3 separate regions of the Homo sapiens genome follow, and all the other regions are linked to region 2. The links come from fine-mapping of genetic effects on plasma protein levels. A gene starts in region 2. Each other region holds a variant in brackets. All regions are shown on one strand. Distances are from middle to middle.

What was found. PIP is the chance, under the fine-mapping model, that this variant and not a neighbour inherited with it causes the effect. Protein levels are from antibody-based Olink assays in UK Biobank. Linkage for the fine-mapping came from a reference panel and not from the study's own genotypes, which makes the PIPs less certain.
Region 1: its variant is fine-mapped to the plasma level of the HS6ST1 protein (UK Biobank, PIP above 0.99). The variant lies in the coding sequence of HS6ST1. If it changes the protein, the assay may bind it differently, which can mimic a change of level.
Region 3: its variant is fine-mapped to the plasma level of the HS6ST1 protein (UK Biobank, PIP above 0.99).

Annotation. Positions count from the first base shown.
Region 1 is chr2:128,263,704-128,270,499 of GRCh38, reverse strand. It overlaps HS6ST1 (heparan sulfate 6-O-sulfotransferase 1), which reads left to right. Exons shown (of 2, transcript NM_004807.3): 2 at 1,630-5,020. The coding sequence ends at 2,338. Among named protein-coding and RNA genes, the nearest start is that of HS6ST1, 52 kb to the left of the region's middle. The variant C/T (reference allele first, on the strand shown) is at 1,754.
Region 2 is chr2:128,315,901-128,322,697 of GRCh38, reverse strand. It overlaps HS6ST1 (heparan sulfate 6-O-sulfotransferase 1), which reads left to right and starts at 3,830. Exons shown (of 2, transcript NM_004807.3): 1 at 3,830-4,661. The coding sequence starts at 4,135. RefSeq lists silencers at 262-471, 512-831, 3,488-3,897, 4,592-4,821 and an enhancer at 5,823-5,972.
Region 3 is chr2:128,289,398-128,296,194 of GRCh38, reverse strand. All of the region lies in intron 1 of HS6ST1 (heparan sulfate 6-O-sulfotransferase 1), which reads left to right. Among named protein-coding and RNA genes, the nearest start is that of HS6ST1, 26 kb to the left of the region's middle. RefSeq lists an enhancer at 525-1,074. The variant G/A (reference allele first, on the strand shown) is at 3,415.

The sequences.
Region 1 (6,796 bases), 52 kb after region 2:
CTGGCCCTTGAGGCCCCGAGTGCCCAGGAGCTGCTGCCATCAGCATGGATGGGTGGTACCAGGCAGGCTGTGGGTGCAGGGTGCTTGGGGAGGGCCAGGTGTGCCTTGGGACGTGTGAAGTGGGAGCCTGGAGCAGGGAAACTGAGGCCTGCTCTCGCCCCTGCTGCCCACAGCTTATCTGCCCCCTGGAGACCAGCCGTGCCTGACCCTGGGGTCGTCAGCTCAGTCCTGCTGGGTCCTTCCTCCACCCCATCTGCTGAGAGCTCCTCCAGGGCAGGGTCTGAGCCTGCCAGGCCACAGAAAACACTGGGCGGATGACAGCTGCCTGTCCCTTCCTCGGCAGTCTGCATGCAGTAGTGCTGGCCTTGCTGCCTGCCCCTGGAGCCATCACTGGCTACCCCGCCTGCTTCAGAGCTGCCACCCCTGGGGCTTTCTGACATGTCCTCATAGGCGGGGGTGGCCTGCAGTGGCACCGCACCACTTGCCAGGCACTGTGCCTCCCTCCCTGCAGGGAGGTGTGCGGTCAGATCAGGCAGTTGCCAGCGGACACCAAGAAGCGCTTTGTGCTCCCCGGGGTCCCTCCATGCCCCCCACCCCCACCCCTGCCCAGGGCAGTGTGAGGGGAGGAGGGGAGCAGTGTGGGTACACTTCCATGTTGCCATCTGGGGAATCCTGGCGGGGGGTCAGGGCCCTTCTGGAGCTGCTCCCCCGGGCAGTGAGGGGCCCTGTGGGCTCCTAGGCTGCCTGCCTGGCCCTGGTTCTACTTGGCCTGAAGCCCACCCACCCCAGCGTGGACAGGAGCCAGGAGGAGGAGCCCTCTAAGAATGACTGCAGCCTCTCCCGGGGCTGAGCCCACACACACACACCGGGCATATCCACAGCCGCCACCACGTTTTACCCACCTGTCCAGTGTCCTGACGCCTCCAGCCCAGCGTCATAGCGAGCCTGGCAAGGACATGCTTCATGCTGGGCTCCTGCCGCGCAGGGGAGGGTGGGAGGTGGAGTCTTCCTTGGGTCGTTTCTCCCTTGTGCACGCACCGTTACATACTGTGCAATGCGTTGGTGTCTTGGGGGACAACCCAGCAAGTAGAGTTGGTGTATACGTCATGGCTTCCTCTGGGGTCCTGGGCTGGCTGGTCCGCTGGGCACCCCCCCCCCAACCACCACCAGGCCTTGGCAGGACCCTGGGACTGGGACTGGAGGTGACCCTCGCTGGCCCCTGCCCACCTTCTGTTCCTGCTGAGTGGCTCTTTGGGTGGCACCATGCCCAGGCTGTAAACAGCTGGTGAAGACTGCTGGCCTCAGGCGGCTGTGGCTCTGCGACTTCTCTGGATGCGGTATTGGTGGCTCCACCCACCAGCAGGAAAAAGTCAGGTTGTCCCTCCAGAGGAGCCAGGCCAGGCGCTGCAGGGCACTGTGGTGGTCATCCTGGGTAGCCATGTGACCGTGGCATGCTCCTTGGCATCTCTGATACCGGGTTTTGAAACGACTGAGAGCTAAGTGCAGGAGTTGGTTGGCATTAGAGGCGAAGCCCAAACTCCTGTAGTGGGGACTTTGACTCAGAGCAGCCCTGGTAGCCCCCCTCATGCTGCGTCACAGCCCTCACCTCCTCTCCCCGTCTCCTTGCAGGAAGTTCTACTACATCACCCTGCTACGAGACCCCGTGTCCCGCTACCTGAGCGAGTGGCGGCATGTGCAGAGGGGTGCCACGTGGAAGACGTCGTTGCATATGTGTGATGGGCGCACGCCCACG[C/T]CTGAGGAGCTGCCGCCCTGCTACGAGGGCACGGACTGGTCGGGCTGCACGCTACAGGAGTTCATGGACTGCCCGTACAACCTGGCCAACAACCGCCAGGTGCGCATGCTGGCCGACCTGAGCCTGGTGGGCTGCTACAACCTGTCCTTCATCCCCGAGGGCAAGCGGGCCCAGCTGCTGCTCGAGAGCGCCAAGAAGAACCTGCGGGGCATGGCCTTCTTCGGCCTGACCGAGTTCCAGCGCAAGACGCAGTACCTGTTCGAGCGGACGTTCAACCTCAAGTTCATCCGGCCCTTCATGCAGTACAATAGCACGCGGGCGGGCGGCGTGGAGGTGGATGAAGACACCATCCGGCGCATCGAGGAGCTCAACGACCTGGACATGCAGCTGTACGACTACGCCAAGGACCTCTTCCAGCAGCGCTACCAGTACAAGCGGCAGCTGGAGCGCAGGGAGCAGCGCCTGAGGAGCCGCGAGGAGCGTCTGCTGCACCGGGCCAAGGAGGCACTGCCGCGGGAGGATGCCGACGAGCCGGGCCGCGTGCCCACCGAGGACTACATGAGCCACATCATTGAGAAGTGGTAGTGGCGGTGGTGGCCACGGGGAGGCCTCTTGGGGGGTGTGGGGGATAAAACAGGACAGACGACAGGTCCACCCAAGACTGTCAAGGGATGAGCATCCCAAACCTGCTCCACAGAGGTAGCTGCGTCCTGAAAAAAAACAGAGCAGGGATGTAGTGGGGCTGGGCAGGGATGGGGGCTTGAGAAATCAACAGGTGCAGCCCAGTGGGTCAGAGGAAAGCGTGCTCGAAGGATGCCATGGTCAGGGCAGGGCCTCCAGAGCAGGTGTTGTGCCTGGAGCTGCTCTCCTGGCCTCCTTGGATTTATCGCAAAAACTGAAGGTTTGCGCAAGAGACGAGGACAGCGGAAAGTGGACCTGCCAGGCCGGGAGTGTGTCCCTCACCAACTATGCACACAGCACTCGCTCTTAGCTCCTCTGTCCGGGCTACTAGGAGTGAGACCAGCTTCTGGCAACTGCCCCAGCTCCAGGCCATCCCATAGCCCCTCCTCTTCTGGCTGCCCCCAATGCCCCGAGGCCTGGGGAGCCCCCAGCTCACCCATCTGTAGCTCCCTCAAAGTCAGGGCCCACCCCATCTGAGGCAGAGAAGACTCGAGTCCAGCCCCCAGGAAGCCTGCTCCCCTCTCTGGCCCATGGTCCTGCTTCATGCTTTGGGTCAGGAGGCCAAAGCTGATGTTCAGGCCCCACCCACTCCCTACAGTCCTCAGACCAAGGAGGGGTTTGGGTAGTAGGCCCGAGCTGCATTGCCGGCCTTCCTCGGGCCAACTGGCAGCCCAGGAGTGGGGAGGCTTTGGCCAGGGATGCTGCCACTTGTGCGTGAGTCCGCGGCTGGCCCTTGGAGGTGACCATCCAGGCAGGCCTGGCTCAGACTGGAAGGGCTGGGGACCGAGGGCTCCCCTGCCTCTGTTCTCCTTTCTGACCCACTGGGATTTGCTAGCAGGCTGCCCCAGCCCCATCACCGAAACACATACTCAAGAGCTCAAATACCACTGCTCCCACCAGCGTACGGATTAAGTTCATCAGGCTTCCATCGGCTGGAGCATGGGACCATAGCCCCTGCCCAGGAGCCGTACCCTCGGACCACAGTGGCTCTGTATGGCCAGGAACTGGGACTCGAGCTTTCAGATTCTCAACTAGCCTTGGCAAAACAGCTGTAGGTGGCCTCCCTGACAACAGACACTCAGCCCTCCCCACCCTGGCTCTCCTTGCATTTCCCCATGCTCCCCACCCCCTGGCAAAAGGCTGGCCATGCTCTGTTCCCAGCAGCCGCGCAGGTTTCCCCACTGGCTGCAATGGCCCTACCAAAAGCCATGTTGCATATCCGTTGTAAGCACGTGCCCTGTGCCCTGTCCCCATTCCTTATGCCCTAGGAGGCCAAGCTGGTGTCTCTAGGAGGGCCCACACAGGCACCCTGGATCCCCCAGAGAGTAGATTGGTGTGCTCAGGCCGCAGGCTGACTCAGAGGTAGGGCAGTGGGCTCTGCAGGCCACCTGGCTGGGGTTGGTGGGGGTCCTCTCTCCTGCCCCAGCTTCCACTCAGCCACCACAGTTGCCACACCATGGGGTGGAGACGTGGGTCACCACGGGCTTGGGAGCAAGCGCCTTCTGCAGCACAGGAAGCCGAAGCTGGGGTCAGGTGAGGTCGCTACCCCTGGAGGTCTGGCATAAGGGCCCCACCCTCAGGTCTCCTACACTGGCCCCATTTTACTTTGGGGTCCAAGGACAGGATGGTCAACAGGGCAGGGTGGACAGCGTGCCAGCGCCGCGCAGGGCCACCTCCCTGGGTGGATGCATCACACTAAGGAAGTGAGTGCCAAGGGGATTTAGTGGTGTGGTTCTTTCAAAGGGAGGTCAGGGTCAATGGGAATCTGCTCGGACACTCAACATGGGGGTGGGTGCACTCCTTGGAGGAGGAGGAACACGTTCAGGGGATTGTGAGGTCTTGCACAAGCCACGTGGGGCACCTTGGCTTCCCGGCAGGAGGTGGACACCCAGCCAGAGGCCTGGCTCAAGGTGACCTCACCTTCACCATGGGCTTCCTGGGTGCGCGGGCCTGAGCGCAGGTTGTTTTGTACATATTGGAATATGTGTTAACTTATGCCCCGCATCCCAACTCACACGGAAGCACGGGTCTTGTCTCAGTCTCTTCGCTGCATTTGGAAAGCAGTCTCCTCTCGGGCCAGCGCCGGGCTGAGGTGTCCAGAGGCGGCGGCAGCTGGCAGTGCCCTCAGCCCCCAAGTGTCCAGCCTGGCACTTCCCATTCAGGCCACCTGCTTTGGGTCAACAGTTCCTTTGCCAGCAGCATCTCCTAAATTGTAAGGACTCTGTCCACCGGGGCCCTCCCAGGGCTGTGAGGACGGAAACAGGCAGGGAGTGGAGCTAACAGCTTAGTCACCAGGACCCCCAGACCTGCAAACGTCCCCTCCTGGAAGGGGAAGCCAGGAACAGCAGAACTGCCCACAAAACAAGGCTGTGAACTTTTCGGGAACTGGAACTGTTTAACTTGAACCCAGGATTGTTTAAAGCTTTATTTATTTATAGCTTCTTCTTAAAAAAAAGTGTTGAAGAAATTTTTTGGTTATTCATACAAAAAAATGAGTTGATGATGGAAAAGCAAGTCATAATCATCTAATTGTTTTTGTCTAGGTCGAGAATGAATGTTAGCTGATGAAATAAACCCTGACAAGGAGTGGCGGGTGTGCTGTGGTCTCTGCGGGCATAGCTGCCCCTCCCAGTGGGGTCTCACACCACGTCCCAAGGGCGGGGTGCTTTGCACAGGTGCAGGAGGCTCAGTGAGGAAAGTCCCATTAAGTAAGGCATTCTGAAAGAAAAAATGGGACTTTGTCATCACCATAAAGAGTAACCGTTTATTAATCATTAGTGATAGTATTTGGGAAGATGACACCAGTTGAGAGGGAGGCAGGTGCCACTGAGTTACATTCTCATTAACCTCTTCCCTCCCTGTCTTTGGAAATTTTGAAAGATTTCAAATGACAAAGAGAGTGGAGGAATAGTTCATGGACACCCACATGCTCTTGGCCTAAATTTTTCACCTTCTCTTATCCTGTGCCCACACTTTCTCATACACGCACACACGCGCGCTTTTCTGAAACATCTGAAAGTAGGTTGTGATCATCAGAATACTGCACTCCTAAATCCATCAGCTCGTGTCTCCTAAGGACGTTCTGCCACAAAACTCAACCCTGTTATCCCAGCCCCCCCCCCAGATTTTATAACAATACAGTATTTTCCAATATCCAGATCTTCTGGTTGTCCTAGAGATGTCTTCAGAGCATTTTGTAGCCCCAGGACCACACGGTGCCCCATGTGCCTCTCCTGTCTCCTTGAATGGAGGAGAGGGTCCCAGCTACCCCTTCTTTTTTCCGTCTTTCTTAGGATTGACATATTTGACTAGTAGAGACCAGTTGTCTTAAAAGGTCTGCTGATGTTGGCCGGGCGTGGTGGCTCACACCTGTAATCCCAGCACTTGGGGAGGCTGAGGCGGGCGGATCACGAGGTCAGGAGATCGAGACCATCCTGGCTAACGCGGTGAAACCCCGTCTCTACTAAAAATACAAAAAATTAGCCGGGCTTGGTGGCGGGCACCTGTAGCCTCAGCTACTCAGGAGGCTGAGGCAGGAGAATGGCATGAACCCGGGAGGCAGAGCTTGCAGTGAGCTGAGATTGCGCCACTGCACTCCAGCCTGGGCAACAGAGCAAGATTCCTAAAAAAAAAAAAAAGAAAAAAAAGAAAAAAAACTACAGATGTCAGTTTCCTAGTGGTCAGATTCGGTGAAATTGGGTAGGAAGGCCCTCGGGTGAGGCACCTTCCATCAGCCCAGGTGTCCTGTGGCTCTGTTCCCCAGATGAGGGAAGTCCAGCCTCCCCACTCAGCCCCTGGGGAAACCCAGCCATAGTGGTCACCTGCCAGCTCATACCTGCCACCATCCCAGTGACAAAGGTCACCAGGGTGTTTCTGGGAGGGTCACGGCTTCTACCTGCCACCATCCCAGTGACAAAGGTCATCAAGGTGTTTCTGGGAGGGTCACGGCACAAGTAGGGCAGGAGTCAGAACGTAGCTGCCTTCTTAAAACCCCAGTCTCAGACTCCACGTCAACACCTGCTCATGCCTAGGTAGAGTGCGGAAGGGAGGAGCAGAGGCCAGACGCCAAGAGGAACTCCCGAGTCCTTCCTGGACACTTCATGCGGAGGTTTATTTGGGGTGTGGACCAGCCCTCAGCCTGGCTTCTCCCTCGGGGGAGCCAAGATGGAAGCTTCCTCCACCTTCTGATAGTACCACTGGACTCTGTAGGGCCAGTGTCATGATCAAAGGTGAAATCAGACCTGAAAATACCTCACCCAGAATGGGGGTTTTCCTCTTCCTGCTTCTCTTTAGAGTTGAAGGCCACCTTTTTTTGTTTTTAAAGACAGAGTCTTGTTCTGTTACCTGGCCGAAGGCCACTTT
Region 2 (6,797 bases):
CCCTACGAATTGCTCAGGTTCTCCTCTTCTGTTTATCCTACCCTCTTCCCCTAAGGACTGAAGCGGGCCTGGAGGGCCTAGAGAAAGGGCACAAAGAACAGCGAGGCCCTGGGCGGGCGTGGAGGGAGGGGAATGGCCCTTCCGAAGCCCCGGGCCTCTTCCAGCGCGGTCCTCGAACCGAACCGCAGGACCCCTGCTGTCCCCGGGCAGCGGCCGGAGCGCGTCCCTCGGGTCCTGGGAAGACCTGCCGCGTCTGCGGGCTGCCTGGGAGCCCAGGCGCCCCGCGGTGCTGGGGGAGGAGCCCGGCACGGGGCCGCTGGGCGGCAAAGGGGCCGCGGGCTCCCTGGAGGAGGCGGCTGCGGACGGGGCCTGGCGACCTCGGAGAAGGTGGCGTCCACGGCGCGCAGCCCGGCGCCCCAAGCCTGCCGCCGGGTCGGGGTCGGGGCCGGGGCCGGGCCCCGCGGGTCCGCGCGAGCCGGAGTCCCCTCTAAAAGTTTGTCCCCAAACGAAACCCCTCTCTCTGCCCCGCGTGGGCAGCGGGGCCAGCCCCACGGGAGGCTCTGAGGACAGACACGACTGCCCTCCTCCACCCCTTGGCAAACAACAATGGGCGGCCGCCGGACGAACGACGAGGGAAGCGAGTGTGGAAAATCCCCCAATTTTTTGCAAAGTCAACCGCGGGCGCTCGGGGGCCGGGCCGCGTGCTGCCCCCGCGCGGCCGTCCGCGGGACTGTGCGCCGGGAGGGGGCGCCGCTGTTGATCTCGTGGTTCTCAGACTCTGAGACCGCACGGTGGGCCGGGAATGAGGCTTCATTCCTGAAGCCGAATGTTAATGCCTCTTCTGGGATCATCACAGCCTGCCACTAAGCCGTGTTCTTTTACTTTTCTTTGCCATTAAGTCAGAGATCACGCATTAAAGAATTGGTGAAGTGGATCTTCAGGGGACAAAGCCACTGAGCAGAAGAGCTGCCAGTGCTTTTCCTTGGACCCCACAAGCAGTCAGGGCCAGAAGCTGCCCCTAGCAAACACTTAGCTCATATGCACTCTCGGGGCTGGGGCAAACCTTGGCCACGCAGGAGATCACCCAGGGAAGAAAGGAAACAGCGCGCAGAGCGCGCCTCCTGAGACCCTGGCTGTGTCCGCTGACCTCCTGGAACCCCACGCCAGCCCCAGACTGTGCGTTTCTATCCATTTTCCAAGACATGACACTGAGGACTCATCGCGGGGAGTAGCGGGAAGTGGTGGGGAGTAGCGTGATGCAAGCTGCCCCGCCAACGAGGGCTCGAGCTGCCTTCCACTCGGCTCAAGTGTCCACTGATTGATGGGTGGCTCATCTGACTTGACTTTCAGAGCCCAGAAACTCACCTACAGCCTTAGGGTCTCAGGTGCCTGTGCAGGGCTTCAATCAAAGTGGAAGACTGAGCAAAGTCCTGTAGCCAGCCAGGCAGATTTCCCTCCTCTTAAAAGAATTCTAGAAAGAAAGGGCTTCCTGGCTAATGTGAGTGCTTCCCATCAGCCAGTGTGGCAGGTATGAAGTTGGATTAAATAGCTTGTTCTGGGAGATGTTGCTCCATGGGTCAGGCTGCTCTGGCTCCCATTCAAGGGTGGGACCTTATCACAGGCACTTCGTCCCTGCCTGGGCCTCAGTTTCCCCCTTGGGACAGTGAGATCATCACAGGGTGGAGCCATGGCCCAAGTACCGATGGCTTCGTTGGCCTTCGGAGCTGCTCCAGCTTTCCCTTGAACACTCTGGGCCCACGTTCCCCCTTGGTGGCAGTGACGGTCACCAGGCTCTCAGGAGTGGCCCCTGTAGACGCTCTCATCCCTGGCCTAGGGAGCTGGGGCAAGTGCAGAGGTGGGGAAGGGGAGGGTTCTGGGGCTCACAGCAGGAATCAGGATCCCAGCTCTGCTGACTCTCATGGGGTGAGAGTGGTTGACCTTGGAACCAGGGTCTTAACCCCTTTGAACCTCAGTTTTCTCTTCTGTAAATGGATATCACAGCCTACCCCCGCAGATTTGCTGATGGAATTGGAAATGACACCTCTACAATGCCTGGCACCCAGCAGGTCTCCAAAAGAGCAGCCTTAATTATGATGTAGCACGAGGATCCTTATCTGGGTAAGGACATCTGGGGGGTGGACCCGGGGCAGCTGTGCTCCCCTAGGCCACACAGGAAGGCTCCCCAGGGCTCAGGCACAGACTGCGTCAAGGGGCTGCAGGCAGGTCCAAGCACACTGCAGGGCGGCCCCACCTGTGTCCCATGGGGACTGCACCCCCACTCCTATAGGAATGAGTCACTTCTGGAGAAGCTTGTCCAAGCTGCCCCCAGGACCCTCGGGCCAGGGACAGTTTTAAAGCAGCCTACAAGATGAGCAGGGGCTTTGGGGCCCTAGGTCCCACTGAGGACCCCACACCATGGACTCCAGGGTGCGCTGGGCTGTGTTGAGGGTTCTGCACCCGCCTGTCCACAGCGGATATTCTTGCGGTCCCTTTGGAAAATGCATGCCGCCCGCTCAGCTGGGTTTGGGGTGTTGGTTTTTCCAGCTCTCTGGGTTTGCTTCCAGGAGGGCTTTCTGGTGTGATGTTGTCTACGTTTAACAGCTTTACTGAGGCATAATTGACACCCCATGATCGCTTCCGGTCCCTAACAGAACGGAAGGCAGGGCACCACCCCGCCTCCCCCCCCACCCCGTCCCCGGCAGGGCTTGACGTGGACACTGGGAGCCCACGCCTGGCAGCCAGACTCGCTCCCAGAGCCCTCGCTGGCCTGAACCAACACACTAGGGCCCACCGCGGCCGGCCCTGCAGCTGTGAGATCCTGGCAGGTCCCAGCCCCACTCCTGCGCTTCCGACGGGCTGCAGCCTCCGAGTACTGCCAGAGCCCAAGCAGTGTGAGTGGGCACCTGGCGGGACCCCCCGCCCCACGAATGCCGCGCGTGCTTGCCAGGCTGGGCGGCGGCGAGTGAGGAGCCCGCACCACCCGGCCCACACACGAGCCAACGTGGAGCGAGCCCTCCGCAGCCAGGTTGGGCCCGGGCCGCTGGACTCTCCAACCAACCCACGAAAGACAGAATATTTGGTGGGCACTCACGATTCTTAAGAATTGGCTCAATGTTTTATAACTCTTTCATTGGAGTATAATAAACATGGATGGGGGAAAATGCACCTCGTCTGATATTCTTTTCAAACAAGGAGGAAGCCATAAAGCCGCTCCGCAGGCCTCTGCAGACAGCCCAACATCTCTTCAATGCGGGGCTGCGGGGCACTGTCCCAAAGCCAGCCGCAGGGGTGAGGGGGTCGAGCAGGAAAGGAAAGCCTCGCTTTCCCTCTCGGTCCTGGTGGTGGGCGGCCCCCGCCGCCCTGGTCCCTGGAAGTGCAGCCCAGTAGGCTAGCGTCTAACTTCAGCGCCCCAGCGTGCAAGGTCAAGGCCTTTCCTCCCGCGCGGGCTGCGGGGACGTGGGCGGCTGGGACTTGGGGAGGAGGGGGTACGGACCCAGGCTCCAGAAGCGCCAGCCGCCGCGCCCCCTCACCGCGGCCCCCGCCAGGAGAGCCTCCCACGCCTCGGCTCCGCACTGCCGGTTGGTCCCCCACTCCCCTGAGGGCGGAATCACTTCCCAGTCGCTGGCTGCCCGCCTGCTAGCGGCCTCGCCACCGCAGCAGACCCAGGTCCCGCGCCCAGCACCCGCGGCGAACCCCGGCACTCCGGAGGCGGGGCCGAGGATCGGCGCGGGCGGCGACGGCAAGAGACGCCACGGGGGCGGGCCAGGGGCGGACCGGGGCGGGGCGGCGGCGGCGGACTGCGGAGACGCGGCGGCGCGCGGGGCGGCGCAGAGCGTTCTCGGCGCGGAGTGGAGCGGAGCGGGCTGGTGCTGGGGGCGCGGAGAGCGCTGTGCTGGCCGGGGCCGGGAGCGGGGCCGAGCGGGAGCGGAGTCGGGCGTCGGGCCCGGGGAGCCGGGGCCGGGCGGGGAGCAGCCATGGCACCGCGGAGGGTCGGGGCCCGCGCCGCTGCGGGCGGCCTGGGCGCCGAGTAGCCGGGCCGGGCCGGAGCGCGGGCGGCGGCGGAGGCAGCTGCGCCCGCGCCTCCTGCCCTCCCAGGCCCCGCGCCCCGCGCCCGGGCCCCGGCGATGGTGACACATGCGGCGGCGGCGCGCCGGCGGCAGGACCATGGTTGAGCGCGCCAGCAAGTTCGTGCTGGTGGTGGCGGGCTCGGTGTGCTTCATGCTCATCTTGTACCAGTACGCGGGCCCAGGACTGAGCCTGGGCGCGCCCGGCGGCCGCGCGCCGCCCGACGACCTGGACCTGTTCCCCACACCCGACCCCCACTACGAGAAGAAGTACTACTTCCCGGTCCGCGAGCTGGAGCGCTCGCTGCGCTTCGACATGAAGGGCGACGACGTGATCGTCTTCCTGCACATCCAGAAGACGGGCGGCACCACCTTCGGCCGCCACCTCGTGCAGAACGTACGCCTCGAGGTGCCGTGCGACTGCCGGCCCGGCCAGAAGAAGTGCACCTGCTACCGGCCCAACCGCCGCGAGACTTGGCTCTTCTCCCGCTTCTCCACCGGCTGGAGCTGCGGGCTGCACGCCGACTGGACCGAGCTCACCAACTGCGTGCCCGGCGTGCTGGACCGCCGCGACTCCGCCGCGCTGCGCACGCCCAGGTGAGCGCCCGGGCGGCGGGATCCTCGCGCAGCTGCGCCCCCGAGGCCGGGCCGTATGCCCGCCGTGCTGTACTGGGTCGGCCCTGCCTTCCCTACCCCCTTCTGCCCTCTTGGGGGCCCCCACTCGCCGGCACCCCTCCCGACCTGCCGAGCGCCCGAGGCTCCCAGCTCCTCTGGGTGAGCCGGCTGTCACCGCGCTTTCTGACCTCGCTCTCACTCTCTTCCTTGCCTTGTGCTGCCCTACTGCCGGCTTGACTGCGCAGCGCCCGGGTTTTCTCCAGGGTCCCCGCCCGCTGCCCTCGGGCCACCTTACCTGCTGTGCGCCGTGAGGTCTGGCCCGCCGGACTTGGGGACGCGGGCTTCTGGGTGTGTGCGTGGCCTACCTGGAGTGTTGGCTTCCCCGTGCCGCTTCGGTGCTGTGGTCCCAAAAGTGGAAGTGAGAGTAGTGAGGTGCCGCCCCTGTGCCTGGAGTGCCTGCCTTCAGAGGGTGGGGGAGCTGCCAGGGAAGGGGGCTGGCTCTGCCCGCCTGCCTGCCGGTGTGTGCAGGTAGAACAAAGGCCCTGTTGACCTGGGGCTGGGGGCGGGGAGGAGGCAGTACCGCCTGTCCTCCCAGTGGGGCCTGCCAGCCGAATTCTTCCAGGCACAGGCTTGCCTGGAGAGAGGAACAAAAGCCACCCGATGGGGGACCACCTTCCCCAGGAAGCTACCAGCCAGGTTGGGGGTAGTTGAGCTGGTCCAGGGAACCTGTGCTGCCACACCCCTTCTCTGGGGTCCCCCAGCCCCATGTCAGAGCTGAGCTGCGTGAGGACACAGAGCATGGGAGGGGTGCCGGGGCAGCTCTTCTGGGAAGCCGTTTGTAGGGGAACCTGGGGTGCTGCTGGGTTTCCAGCAGTTAAAGTTGGGGTTATTTTCCTCCTGTTCCTGTTGGTGCCCATTCGTCCTGCAGGGATGCCCTGCGGGGCCTTTCTCCCCAAAGTCTGGGCTGGGAAGGGCCAGGAGCAGGGCTTCTTGTCTGCCTTTTGTTTCTCTTCCAAATTTGCCTTAGGACTGAATTTGCAGACAGGCTGGTGGTAGGAGGCTGGGCGGTTGTAGGCGTGTTGGCTGGCACTCTTGGGTCCAGAGGCTGTAGGCTCTCAGGTGTGCCTGGGGAGCCTGGAAGGTCCAGCCAGCCTGGAGCTGAGCAGAGTCCGAGACACTGCTCCCCTGCACAGACCTCAATCCTTGCTCTGTGGTCTTTCTCAGGCTGTCAGGAAATTGGGGTCCTAGAGTTGGAGGGGCATCTTCCCACTTTTCTTTCTCCCCCCTCCCCCAACTGTACACACACACACCCACACACACACACACACTGCAGCTCCCAGCCTGGGAGGTGATGTTCTGAGCCTCTTACAGCCACATTCTACACTTGGCGGTCACAGAGCTGCCTGTCTAGGGCCCCTGAAGGATTGCTTCCGGCCCAGCACTTAGTCTGCTCTGCACAGATGCACGTTCCTGCTGCAGGGCCCCCCTAACCCTGGTCCAGCTTCTCTGTGCTAGGCTCAGCTGTGCCTGGGACCACAGCCATGCCCCCACCCACCCTTCCACCAGTCAGAGCAGTAGGCTCCCAGAGTTGGTCACTGACCAATACCAACAGACGCCTCCCTACCTGTGGGGGGTGCAAGGATGGGGGTCACCCCCTTTGCCAGAGGGACTTAGCTCGGCAGCCTAAGAGGATTGCGTGGAAGCTTCGGGCCGCCAAGAAGCCGGAGCTTTTGAAACAAGCCTGCTCAGCAGAGGCCACCTCAGCCCTAGATTGCAACCAGGATGCTCTTCCTGCAGCCCCGCACGCCTGTGGGTCCCCAGGGTGAAGAGCCTTGGCCTCCTTTCTCTGGAGTTTGTCCATGAGAGTGGGAGGACCAGGTGGGGCCGATGGGGCCCCAGGTGCTACACCAGGAAGGCCCGGCTCCCCCTGCCCAGGGAGCATGTGTGGAGCAAGAATGGAAAACGCAGATGCCTCTGGCGGAGGTGGGCTGCCAGCCTGGAAATTGCTAGCTCAGCAGCATGCGCCAGGGTTGGGAGGGGCTTCCAGGGCCGTCAGGAGGCCCCCTCTGCCACCCACTCTGGAAGTGGGTTGTGCTACCGGGCAGGTGACAGCACCCC
Region 3 (6,797 bases), 27 kb after region 2:
TAGCCTGGGTGGCTCAAGCAGCAAGTGTTTATTTCTCACAGTTCTTGAGACCCAAGTCCCAGATGAAGGAGCCAGCAGATGTGGAACTGGTGAGGGCTTGTTGCCTGTCTTGTATCCCCTGCATCTCCCATGGCCAAGAGAGAAGAAATCATCTCTCATGTCTTCTCTTATGAAGCCACTGGTCCCATTCATTATGGCTCCACCCTCATGACCTAATTACCTCTCAGAGTCGCCACCTCCAAATGCCATCACGTTGGAGATTAGGACTTCAACATGAGTTTTGGTGGAACACACACATTCAGTCCATAGCAATGGCCTTTATTACACTGAGGTAGTTTCCTTCTGGTTCTAGTTTGTTGAAAGTTTTTATTATGCAGGTGCATTGAATTTTGTCAAATGATGTTTCTGCATCAGTTGAGATGATCATGTGTTTTTTTCCTTCATTCTGTTAATGTGGCATACTACATTGATTTTCATATTTTGAACCATCCTTTCATTCTAGGGATAAATCTCACTTGGTCATGATACATAATCATTTTTATATGCTGTTCAATTCAATTTGCAAGTATTTTGCTGAGGATATTTTCATCAGTATTTATAAAGGACATCAGTGTGTAATTTTCTTGTTATATCTTTGTCTGGCTTTGATATCAGGATAATACTGACCTCATAGAATGAGTTAGGAAGTATTCTTTTCACTTCAGATTTTTGGAAAAGTTTGGGAAAGATTTGTGTTAGTCCCAGGAGAGCCTCTCAGGTCCCAGCATGTGCTGGGAGCCTAGTCACAAGCCCTGGCAGTCAAGGGTGTGGACACCCAGGCAGCTGCCTAGCTGTGTGGCCCTGAGCAAGGGCCTTCACCTCACTGTGCCTGACTCCTCAACTATAAACGGAGAGGAGTGGTACCCCCTGCCCTGAAGTGGAGAGAAGAATGGTACCCATTGCCCTGGAGTGAGGAGAGAACCAAATGAGCCAGTATGGGTGTGCCCAGCACAGGGGAGGCAGCAAGGATGCTGCCTGTGCCATCAGCCGGCAACATCTCACGGTGTTCACAGTAGCCCTTCAGGACAGAGGGACCCAGGGCTCAGAGGGCACTGGATCTGCGCATGGTCACTCAGTTGCTGGTTCCTCACTGGGCACATCCAGACCCCTCTGCCTTCAGACTCCTGCATTTCTGCCTTGCCACACAGGAAAACCAAGAGGGGGAGGTGGTTTGGAGTAGGTCATGGGGCCCACTGAGCCTTGGGTATCCTGGCAACTGCTTCTTATTTTCCTTGTTCCTTGGAGCCTCTCTGGGGGTGCTAGGGCTGTGTCCATGGAGAATCAGCACAAATGTGCCTGAAGGAAGGAGTTTCAGGAAGCAGGAGGCTCCAGGGCCTGCCCACCCAGGCTGACACCCCTGTACCTTGTGGGCCACAGTCAGGAAATCCCAGAGCCTGGGTGTGGGAGGGTGGTCCGAAGACCTCTTTTGTCTCCCCCTCCACACACACACACACACACACACACACACACACACACACACACACGCCTCCCTTCTTTGCGGTGGAGCCTCTTTACTGCCCAGTAGCCCACCTTCTTCTCCCAGCTCTCCAGGCCCCAGAGCACTTGTCCTCAGAGGGGCCGCAGCTCCCAGGTGGGAGTGTGACAGCGTCTCCATCCTACCTGGGCCACCAACCTATTGAAACTGGTGTCATCTTAAGGACAGCCAGCGCCTCTTGACTCTGACAGGCTGCCCCAGGGTGAACAAGTTTCTAAAGGTGGCAAGTCCCACCTACCCAGTAGACAGGCTGAGAACAAAGGAAGACCCAAGCACTAGCAAGGAGAGCCCTCCCCTCCCTCGGGGACTGCGGCACTTCATGGGCAGGGCCCGGGGCCCTCCATCACAGCCCACCCCGCCCTGTGCCCCCTCTGATGCAGTAGAGTCAGTGAATTGTCACTAGCCTGGTGCAGGCCATCCAGAGCACAGTGCCAGGGCCGGGCACAGGGCGTGTATGACAGAAGAGCCATGTGGGGTCTCAGGAGGAGGCTGTCAAGTCCAGGCTCAGAAGCTGTGATGTGAAGGACAGTGCTTCATGGAGTTTGGGGCAGGTTTCCAGCAGAGGGTCTGGGCCAGCAGGGCAGGTGCAGAGAGGAGAGGGCAGGGCCCTGCCCTCAAGGAGGTACAGAGCCAAGCCTACTGGCTTCGGGACCCACATGGTGCCCCTGTGTCCCTGCAGCGTGGTCTCAGCATGGACCCCCAACCTGTGGTGAAACCATTGCCCTGGGATGTTCAGCAGGACTGGGTCAGCTTCTGCCTGGCTCAGCATGGCCATTCCACACTTAGAGGCTGACCACAGGACTAACTGGATCCTATGTGGCCACAGACCCTGCTCACATAGCACTGGCCTTCTGAGCTGGTGGTTAATCCAACCTTCCTCATCCCCCAGAGGACCCCCAAAACAGGTGCTTGGTATAAATGTAACTCGCCTTCCTTCACTGGTGACCTGAGGCCACCTGATGGTCTCTCTTTGCCCTCTGTCCCCGTGGGCCCCAAAGAATCTGGGAGCATGTTCCTCCTCTGACTCCGGGCCCTCCAGGCCATACCAGCCCCTGGTTTTGCTAAACATCCCCCAAAGCTGTGGCCCCGGGAAGCGCCCCTCGGACCATGGTCTGCTGCTGCTCTCCTTCCAACTTCGAAGGTCCCCTCCCGTCCTGGGGTATGAGGAACAGTGGTTTCTGGGAAATCTGGAGCCACCCCAGTGTTTGCAAGGAAAGTGCCCAGCAGGTGGTGGCAGCCGCCACAGTTACTCCTCAGACTAGCTTTACTCATGGCTTTAGGGAGTGACGGTCATGCTTCATTCCAGGCCTCAAAGCCTTAGCCATTCCCAGGCCTTGCTCTGCCCAGGCCCAGGCTGGCCCTTGGGCAGGCTTATGGGGAGCCAGGCCAGAAGAGGAGAAAAGCGCCATATTGTGTGACATGCCCCTGGCTCAGAGCGGGCTGTGCCTGGGAGCGGTGCCCTTCCGCAGGAGACAGGGTGTGCGGGTGGGACGCTGGAGTGCCTGGCTGGTTTGGGCCCCACTGCATGCAGAGCAAGGCCCAGCCTTTGGGGAGGGAGGCCTGGTGTGGCGGAGCAGAGCAGGGACCAGCTCCACCAGGCCCATGGGTGGAACCACACAGGCTGTGGGCAGCGGGGGGCTGCAGCCACGGCAAGGACCCCAGACCCAGGGTGGTCTCCAGGGCTCTTTTGCAGTAGGAGTGGCAACAGAGTTGGGGAGGCTGACAAGTGGGAGGCCTGCCTAGGCTCTCCCCGACCGCTGCCTTCCCCCACACCCCATGTCTCAGGTGCCCTCCTGTGAGTCGAGCCGTCTTTTCCAGCAGGAGCCCGTCAGCTGATAGCACCCCTGCCTGCCCTTCCTGCTGCCCTTGTTCCTCTGCCC[G/A]CCCCCATGGCCTTGTGAGTCACCGCCCCTCCCCTCCGCCCCATTCCCCCCGTGCCATTTGCCCTGGCCTGCTGCACACTGAATGCCCTGAATCTGGAGCCACTGCACAGGGCACTGCCCTCCCGGCTTCCCACAGCCCTTGCTGGGCTGTCCCTGCCCACTCACATGCCCACATGCCACAGCCTCCCCGTGAGCCTGGCCGCCCTCCCTGAGGCAGGGGTGGGCCCACCACCACCCTCCACATCCTCGCCGGGATGCCTGGCTGGTTCCTTCCAGCTTCTGGGAAGCAAGGTCCCAGAGCGCCGGGGTGAGGAGCACAGTCTTCTCCAGTACGTGTCTCGCCCCGGGTTGTTCTGTGTCCAGACTGGTGTGGGCGTCCCTGCCCTGAGAAGGTGTTGGGTGGGTAGCTGGGCGTGGAACACAGGGCCCACCTTACCTCCTCAGGAGCCCAGCCACAGTTAAAGCCGCTCCAAGCCAGGGTCCTGCCAGGCGTGGGCCCTATGGAAGGATACACATGGTGTGAGCAGGCCCAGACTGCCTGGCATGGACCCTCTGGGGATCCCTCTCCCCACACCTTCACCAGGTGGTCTCTGTGGCACTGAGAGGGCCTAGAGCTGGGCAGGGCCAGGAATCCCTGGCACTCTTGCTGGGCCCAGCCCCCCCGGCCTCAGTTCACCCTCCTCACTGTTGCCCTGTGCCGCCTCCCCTGCCGGCTCCATCCAGGCCCCTCTCCTGGCATCCAGGGGCCTTCTCCTGAGCCGGACCCTTCCCCACACAGCCACCCTAGGATGGAGGAGCTTGGCAGGGTCTCCCCTGGCGTTGAGAAGAGTGTGCATTCAGAGGAGCCTGTCAGCCCTGAGCAGGGAGGGTGTTGGACGGAAGGAATGGAGGGCAAGAAGCACCTATAGGGAAGCCTGTGTATGCCCTTGGGGAAGAGCCTGTGGACAGATGCCCGCCGGCGCCCCTGCACAGCTGTTAGCCACATCCTTGCTGGGTTGCCTCCGTGAGGTCTGTCCAGGGCCTCCCCGTGGAAAGAGGAGGGGCCAAGTGATGGAAAGCAGCAGGACTGGTATGAGGCAACAAGAGCCCCAGGCTGGAGAGGCCAGGCCAGGTGAGGCACACAGCCTGTGCCCTGGCTCCCTTGAGGTCCACCTTGCCCCAGGCATGGCGTCAGCCTGTGGAGGACCCAGGTCCTGCAGCCAGGGGCTCTCCCTCAGGCCCTGGTGAGCTCATTTAGAAGCCAGCTGCTCCCGCTGACGCACCTTCTGAGCTCACCCAGTGCCTGGGGCCCTCCCTGCCAGAGGTCTAGCCCCCAAGAGACACAGTGAGGATCCAGACTGAGGAGGCTAATGCTTCCTTCTGCTGCTCCAGTGCCATGGCCGCCCCAAACCTCCAGGACTCACACCTCACTGAGCGCAAACCCACAGCCTTAACTATGGGGTGCTCTGGACCCAGGGCAAGGGCAGTGGGCAAGAAAAGTAGCCCTCCCCCATGCCGGGACTCCGGCTGTCTGAGAGGGTGTGTGAAGCCCCCAGCCTAGTAATGCCTGCACGGGGTACTCACTAAAGACAAGAAGGACAGGCAAGGGGACTCTACTGGGACAGTTAGGTCCCTAGTTCCTCCTTGTTTTATTGTGTCAGCTGAGATCCCCAGTACATGCAGAATTGCCTTAGAGAGAGTGGACATCTTTGTCTTATTCATGATCTTAGAGGGAATGCATCTGACTCTTCCCCATGGGGACCATGCTTGCTCTAGGTTTTGGGGATACTTTATCAAATTAAGGAACTTTTTTTTTTAATTTGAGACAGTTTCACTCTTTTGCCCAGGCTGGAGTGCTATGACACGATCTCCGCTCACTGCAACCTCCACTTCCTGGGTTCAAGTGATTCTTACGCCTCAGCCTCTTTATAGGTGCGTGCCATCATGCATGCTAAATTTTTTTTTTTTTTTTTTTTTTTTTTTTGTATTTTTAGTAGAGACGGTGTTTCGCCATGTTGGCAAGGCTGGTCTTGAACTCCTGACCTCAAGTCATCCACCTGCCTCAGCCTCCCAAAGTGCTGGGATTACAAGTGTGAGCTACCACGCCTGGCCAAATTAAGGGACTTCTATTCCTAGTTTCCTGAGAGTTTTTATTATGAATAGTGTTTTTAGCAGATGCTTCTTACACATTTACTGAGCTCTGTAGTCTGTTGCTGTGATGAGTCACATGTATGGATTTTCTCCTGTTAAGCCATCCTTGCATACCTGGGGTTACTAAGTATGGTCGTAGTGTAATATCTTTTATATGCTCAATTGGGTTGGATTTGATAAGATTTTTGTTGAGGAATTTTTGTATCTATATTTGAACTCTGAGCTTAGCAGATGTGTCCACCAGGCTGCAATTTTCCTCTCTTGTGCATTTGTCCAACTTCGGTATTAGGATTATGTTGGCCTCATAGAATGAATTGGGAGTGTCCACTGCTTTACTCTTGTCTAGGAGGGTTTGCTTACAAAAATCTGGTTCTTTTAAAATTTGGTAGAAATAGCCCAGCACTTTCTTTGTAGGAATTTTACCCCTAACTTTTTATCTTGAAAAATGTCAAACTTACAAAGTCGTTGAAATGGTAGTAAAGTGAACCTCATACCTTTCACCGAGACCCACTGCTTGTTAACATTTTGCAATATTTGTGCTTGTGAGTGGGTGCTCTCACTTGCTGTTTACATATATGTATATCTGTAGATACATGTGTACTTACATGTATATTTATATATGTAGTTATATACATGCTTTTGCATTTTAGTAGAATCATTTGAATGTAAGCTGCAGGCATTTCCTCAATATTTTAGGAAGATTTTAAACTACTGCTTTGATTTTTGCTTTTTGAGATTATCGGGCTATTTGTGACTTATATTTGGACATTTTATACAAATAATTTGACTGACAGCTATCCTCTCTCTATCTCTTACATGTTCTCCTGGTGCCTCTGGCCTGTGGTTGGTGAAAGCAGGTAGGTCTGTTCCGGCAGCTTCCTCTCTTTCCCTGCCAGCTGGGGTGGGCCCATCCTCATGCCGAGCGTCATGCTGTGACCTCCAGGAGGCATATTGTCTTGTTTTGTGCAAGGAGGAAACAGATGACAGATGCATTCCTTGGGGAACTCGTCAGGGCCACACAGCTGCTGGATGGCAGATCCCTTAGCAAGCTGGAGACCTGTTTTCTGGTGCTGCCAATGGCGCGCCGGGTTCTCCTGGGAGCTTCGTGCTGCTCATCTCAGGGACCGTGCACGTGGGTGAGCAGCAGACATGCCTTGTGGCCTATGAAGTCAGACACCTCTGGTATCTGGGAGACTTTGGCTGCAGAAGGATCTCTGAGTCTCCATTTGCCCATCTGCAGGGGGATCTAATAG